Regions from separate parts of the Homo sapiens genome. Here region 2 is linked to region 1. Evidence: fine-mapped expression QTL. A gene starts in region 1. The other region holds a variant in brackets. All regions are shown on one strand. Distances are from middle to middle. Region 1 holds the start of CYB5D2 (cytochrome b5 domain containing 2). Region 2 overlaps ANKFY1 (ankyrin repeat and FYVE domain containing 1).

What was found. PIP is the estimated chance that this variant, and not a neighbour inherited with it, causes the effect.
Region 2: its variant is fine-mapped to the expression of CYB5D2 in whole blood (TOPMed, PIP 0.92).

What each region holds. Positions count from the first base shown.
Region 1 is chr17:4,141,711-4,144,727 of GRCh38, reverse strand. CYB5D2 (cytochrome b5 domain containing 2) reads right to left here and starts at 1,531. Exons shown (of 4, transcript NM_144611.4): 1 at 723-1,531. The coding sequence starts at 972. ZZEF1 (zinc finger ZZ-type and EF-hand domain containing 1) reads left to right here and starts at 1,698. Exons shown (of 55, transcript NM_015113.4): 1 at 1,698-2,186. The coding sequence starts at 1,833. RefSeq lists enhancers at 683-1,262, 833-1,385, 1,413-1,722, 1,386-1,937 and a silencer at 1,803-1,972.
Region 2 is chr17:4,173,540-4,176,039 of GRCh38, reverse strand. ANKFY1 (ankyrin repeat and FYVE domain containing 1) reads left to right here. Exons shown (of 25, transcript NM_001330063.2): 20 at 1,984-2,131. Among named protein-coding and RNA genes, the nearest start is that of CYB5D2, 32 kb to the right of the region's middle. The variant C/G (reference allele first, on the strand shown) is at 1,355.

The DNA of each region.
Region 1 (3,017 bases):
ATCCTTTAACCCCCTCAGCTGTAACACAGGGACACCAGCATAAACTTAATTTGACAAATGTTTCTTGAGGCCTAACATATGCACAACTTTGGTCTACGTATCAAGGACTGTAAAGGTGACTGGACCCCTTTCCTCTGCCCTAACCTTCTAAGGAAGGCAAACAGGTGCATCTTGTACTAGAAGCAGGAATGACTCAGACCAAATGTACTATATGACGGGCCATAAAGGAATAAAGTATTGATGCATGCTCATAAACCATGGATGAACCTTGAAAACACTATGCTTAGGGGTGGGGGGAAGAAAGATTATTTGGGACCAGGGCATAATGAAGAGATGGTTGGAATTATTAAGGAAACTGTGAGGGTAGGGGCGGGGCGGGATCTCGTTTATCTGTGCCCTAAGAGCCCCCACAAAAGTCCGGCACACAGCCCGTATCCTAGGGCTTCCGACGCTGGGTAATGGGTAACAAGAGACAGAAGACATGTTTCTCCAATGTAAGTCACGCAGGGCGGTGGTGGATGACAGAGCTGGCCCACAGTCCCGCCAGAGCCAGAGAGCCTAGAAGGATAGTGCATGCAGCTCGTCCCGCCCACCGCACGGGTTTGATGGATGTGGGGTGGGGATGGGGGGGGAAATAGATGAATAATGAACCAACGAACGACGCGCAGGTGGCTACTGGCTCGCGCCAGCGGAGAGAAAGGCGTGAGCAGCCTCGCTGATACCTGCGAAGCCGCTATAGTGGGACCCAGGCTCGTAGTGCCTCCGGCCGGAGGACACATCGTAGACACGGCCGAGCAACGCCAAGTACAGGCCCGGGTCCCCTGGGCCGCCGCGGTAGCGAGACAGCTCCTCCGGTATGAAAAGGCGAAAGCCAGCGCGGGGACCCCACCAGCCCATAAGCCGTGCTGCCATTACCGCTGCTGCGGCTACAGCCAGGCCCAACAAAAGCCCACGGCCTCCGCACCTCAACATCTATATAGGCCCACCCGCTCCGCACTTCCGAGGTTGCCGCCTCTATCTACAGCTAAGATGGCCGAGACGCCGAGCGTGACGTCATCGGCGCGCGCGCTCTCGCTCTCTCTCTCGCGCGCTAGTGCTCGCGCTCCCTCCCTTAGTCTCTCTCGTTTTATCTGTATTCCTGGCACTGGCGAAAAGCTCGCTGTCTGCGACTTTTTCCAGGTACTTTTTTTTTTTTTTTCTGAGACAGAGTTTTAGCTCTTGTTGTCCAGGCTGGAGTGCACTGGCGGAATCTCGGCTCACTGCAACCTCCGCCTCCCGGGTTCAAGCGATTCTCCTGCCTCAGCCTCCCAAGTAGCTGGGATTACAGGCACGCGCCCCCACGTCCGGCTAATATTTTGTATTTAGTAGAGACAGGGTTTCACCACGTTGGTCAGGCTGGTCTCGAACTCCTGACCTCAGGTGATCCACCCGTCTCGGCCTCCCAAAGTGCTGGGATTACAGGCGTGAGCCACCGCGCCTGGCCCTTCTCGTACTTCTTGGCTTGCAGGTTGTCAGCCCCAACAAAGATGGCGGCAGCGGAGGCTACGGAATGACGTAGATACTGAGACAGACTCGTCCTCTGGGAAATCAAGGTTGCACCCTTTGAGGCGGCGCTCCCCGCCTAGCTGTCGTGAGTTGGTAGAGGCCGCCTATCTACGTGACGGCGCCTTTGCGACAGCGGTCGTCGCTTGACGGCCAGGAAGCCGGAAGCCGCAGGGGCCGCCGTCGTCTCCTCCGCGTCCCCGCCCGCCAGCTGCTGTCGGAGGTTGACAGGTCGAGGCGGGGAGGCGGCGGCGGCGGCTGCAGAGCCAGGCGCCCAAGACGGAGACCCCATGGGGAACGCTCCGAGTCACAGCAGTGAAGACGAAGCGGCAGCTGCCGGTGGCGAGGGCTGGGGCCCACACCAGGACTGGGCCGCGGTCTCGGGCACGACCCCCGGCCCGGGCGTCGCGGCTCCAGCGCTACCACCCGCCGCGGCGCTGCTGGAGCCGGCCAGGCTGCGAGAGGCTGCTGCAGCGTTGCTGCCCACACCCCCCTGCGAGTCGCTGGTGTCGAGGCATCGCGGCGCGTTGTTTCGCTGGCTGGAAGAGCGGCTGGGCCGCGGCGAAGAGTCTGTCACTCTGGAGCAGTTCCGGGAGCTGCTGGAGGCTCGCGGCGCCGGCTGCTCTAGCGAGCAGTTCGAGGAGGTCAGGGCCGGCAGGCGACTGCGGGGATGGGGCAGGGCGGTCGCCCCCAGGGGACTGAAGGAAGAGGTGGGCATTTGCTTTGGAGAGGCCAGGCGGGGACCCATATGAGGTGTTTCCAGCTTTTCACCAGGCGTTTGCTTCGTTTCTCTTTAACCTATGTTAGAGGTCTGGAAAGTCTGCATCAGGCCGTCCTTGCTCTGAAGAGCTGGACAAGCCCATATGTCTCTCTCTGTATGTTGTAATGCAGACCTTTGTGCAGTTGATTGACGCTACTCTGGAGATCTTCTATCAGATTCTCGAACAGTTTGGAGAGAAAAGAGATGTAAGGATAGGAGGAGTGGCGCTGAGAACCATTTTTTGTATTGTCCTGTCCAGGTTTTTACACAGCACCTTCCCAATTCAGTGTGGGCGCCGAATAAGTGTGGAAAGACAGTAGTAACATGCTGGAAAGGCTCACATTCTAAAACCTATCCTCCTCATGCAAAAACTAGCTTTTCTAAAATACATACTGGTTTGTAGATCCTTAAAGAACCATATATTAGACTCATTTAAACCTTCATAGGATCCGAAACTGATAGGCAAATACCAGGTTTCCTGTGAATACTTGTAATTATGCAGTTCTTCATATAATCACCAAGATCATGTCTGCTAAGTCATTAAGAGAGCAAATTGATTTGGCAACAAAATATTTTCCTTGGAAGGCATTTTGGGAGTTTATTTACTGGGCGCTTCACTTCGAGTTAAGAAGACTGATCCAGGGTTACCCAGTGAATCATTAGTAAAACAGACTATCAACTAGATCTCTTGCTTTTTTTTTTTTTCTTTCTTTCA
Region 2 (2,500 bases), 32 kb before region 1:
GGTCCCAAAGTCGTAGGGAATCGGCCTCGTGTTCATCAGTCTTTATGCCTCTGTAGGGCTGGAGGAGGTTACGGTCCCTGACCAAGGACCCCGCCTTCCTGGGGCCCGGCATGACAGATGATAGGATCGCCCAGAAACACTAGAAACAGCGGGTCTTCCAGTGTCCGTGTGCTCCTTCCTCTGAATTGATGCTGCATCCTGTTTGACCCTGTTCATACTGAAACCCCTTCCCCACTCTCTCCTCCCAGTTAACCAGCTGTGGGGCCAGTTATGATCCCTAACACAGCACCAGGGACCATGAATATACATCTGTGAGACGTCCCGTATGGAGAGTCCCATATCCACTCATATGTCTTATCGATCAGTGATTAGACTGGGCGCCCAGAGTTCTGGGGAGGCTGAGACTTAGAAGTCAGGGTCCTAACCAGAGCAGCTAAGCAGCACCTAGATTTTCCCAGAGGCAGTGCCTGTACACACGGAGGAACCAGGGGTGGCCATACACCTCAGCAGCAGCAAATTGGGTTCTGACTACAGACTACATGTATTTTCTGTTTACAGCGATTGTTTTTTAAACTTTGTCAGAAAGAGGATGACGAACTTCAAATACTAAACGAATAGGTATTATGTAAAGGTCCCTCCGGCTGTGTTGATTCTGTAATTCTTTGTGTCCCTTTTTTTCTTTCTTTTTTTTTTCTTTTTCCTTTTTTGAGACATGGTCTTGCTCTGTTGCCCAGGCTGGAGTGCAGTGACCTGATCACAGCTCGCTGCAGGCTTGACCTGCCAGGCTCAATCAATCCTCCCATCTCATCCTCCCGAGTAGCTGTGATTACAGGTGCACACCATTACACCCAGCTAATTTTTAAATTTTTTGTAGAGATGAGGTTTTGCCATGTTACCTGGGTTGGTCTCGAACTTCTGGGCTGAAGCAATCCGCCCGCCTCAGTCTCCCAAAGTGCTGGGACTACAGGCCTGAGCCACTGCACCCGGCCTGTGTTCTTTCTTTTAAAAAACAGGCCGGGTGCAGTGGCTTATGCTGTAATCCCAGGACTTTGGGAGGCCAAGGTGGGAGGATCACTTGAGGCCTGGAGTTTGACACCAGTCTGGGCAACATAGCAAGACGTTGTCTCTACAGAATTTTTCTTTTTTTTAATTAGCCAGGTATAGGGTCACATGCCTGTGGTCCTGGCTACTCAGGAGGCTGAGGTGGGCCAATCATCTAAGCCCAGGCGTTCAAGGCTGCAGTGAGCTATGATGGTACCACTGCACTCCAGCCTGGGTGACACAGCAAGTTGCTGTCTCAAGAAATAATAAATAGAAAACAATAGTGAAATAGTACATACTCATTGTGGAAAAA[C/G]TCAAAGCATGTAAGGATGTGAAACAGATAGTGTCTCTCTTTGAGTCCCAGCTCTTCGGAGTATGGCATTTATGCTTTGAAACACCTTCCAAGTGCCTCTGTGCCTGCATGCTTGTGTGTACACAGAGCTCTGTCTTCCCCAGATGGAATCATACTATCTTCTAATTTGCAAGGTTTTTTAAACTTACTTGTCATCAACATCTTTCCATGTTAATCGATAAATATTTATCATCTTACTCTACTGTTTGTACCTATTACAATTTTTTACAACCAAACCCCTTTGCCTTCAGGCTTTCCTATTCCAAGCAGTAGACACCCGTAGATAGTACAGCGGCCATCACTGCAGTCCTGCACAGCTTTTATACACGAAAACCTTAGAAGTAGAGTTTCTGCATCCCAAGGAATGGCTCTTTAACATTTTGATAGGTAATTGCCAGTTTGCCCTTGGCACGGGTTTTGCTGGTTTCTGCTTCAGCAGGAGTGTGTGTGAAGCTCCTATGCTCCCAGCTCTGTCAGCAGGGCAGGCCATCAGCCTCTGTGGGTGTCAGAAGACAAGCAGGCTCGGCCCCCATAAGGGGGATCTTGATTGTGGCAGAGAGACTGACTGTTCATGTAATGAACTTCAACAGCTTCTTGCGGGAGCCAAAGTGAACGAATTAACCAAGCATCGCCAGACTGCCCTCCATCTTGCTGCCCAGCAGGACCTGCCCACCATCTGCTCAGTCCTCCTAGAGAATGGCGTGGACTTTGCTGCCGTGGATGAGAATGGAAACAATGGTAACTCCCAGTCATTCTTTAGTGGCTTGAACGATCCCTCCATTCTAGGGGTGGGGGTGCAGTGCACCCTTGGGTCTGCTCCCCACTGGGGAGGTTGGCTTTTACAGGAGCAAAGCTGTGACAGGAAGTGCTCTGGGTAGAGCATCCAACCTGCGACTGCCCAGGCCTTGGGCAGCCTCCCCATCTGAGTGGGAGCCCTGGAAGCCCACACTGCCTCCTTGGGAAACTGTTAAATCTCACCTTTGGGTAACTGCTGAAGCAGAAGGCACAGCACAGAGCAATCATGAGATTGCATTTGTGATGCATCCTTGAGGGCGGTGAAGACCAGAAAGGATGGCTCTGTGCGTGGCCAGTCGCTGCTGTGGCCGG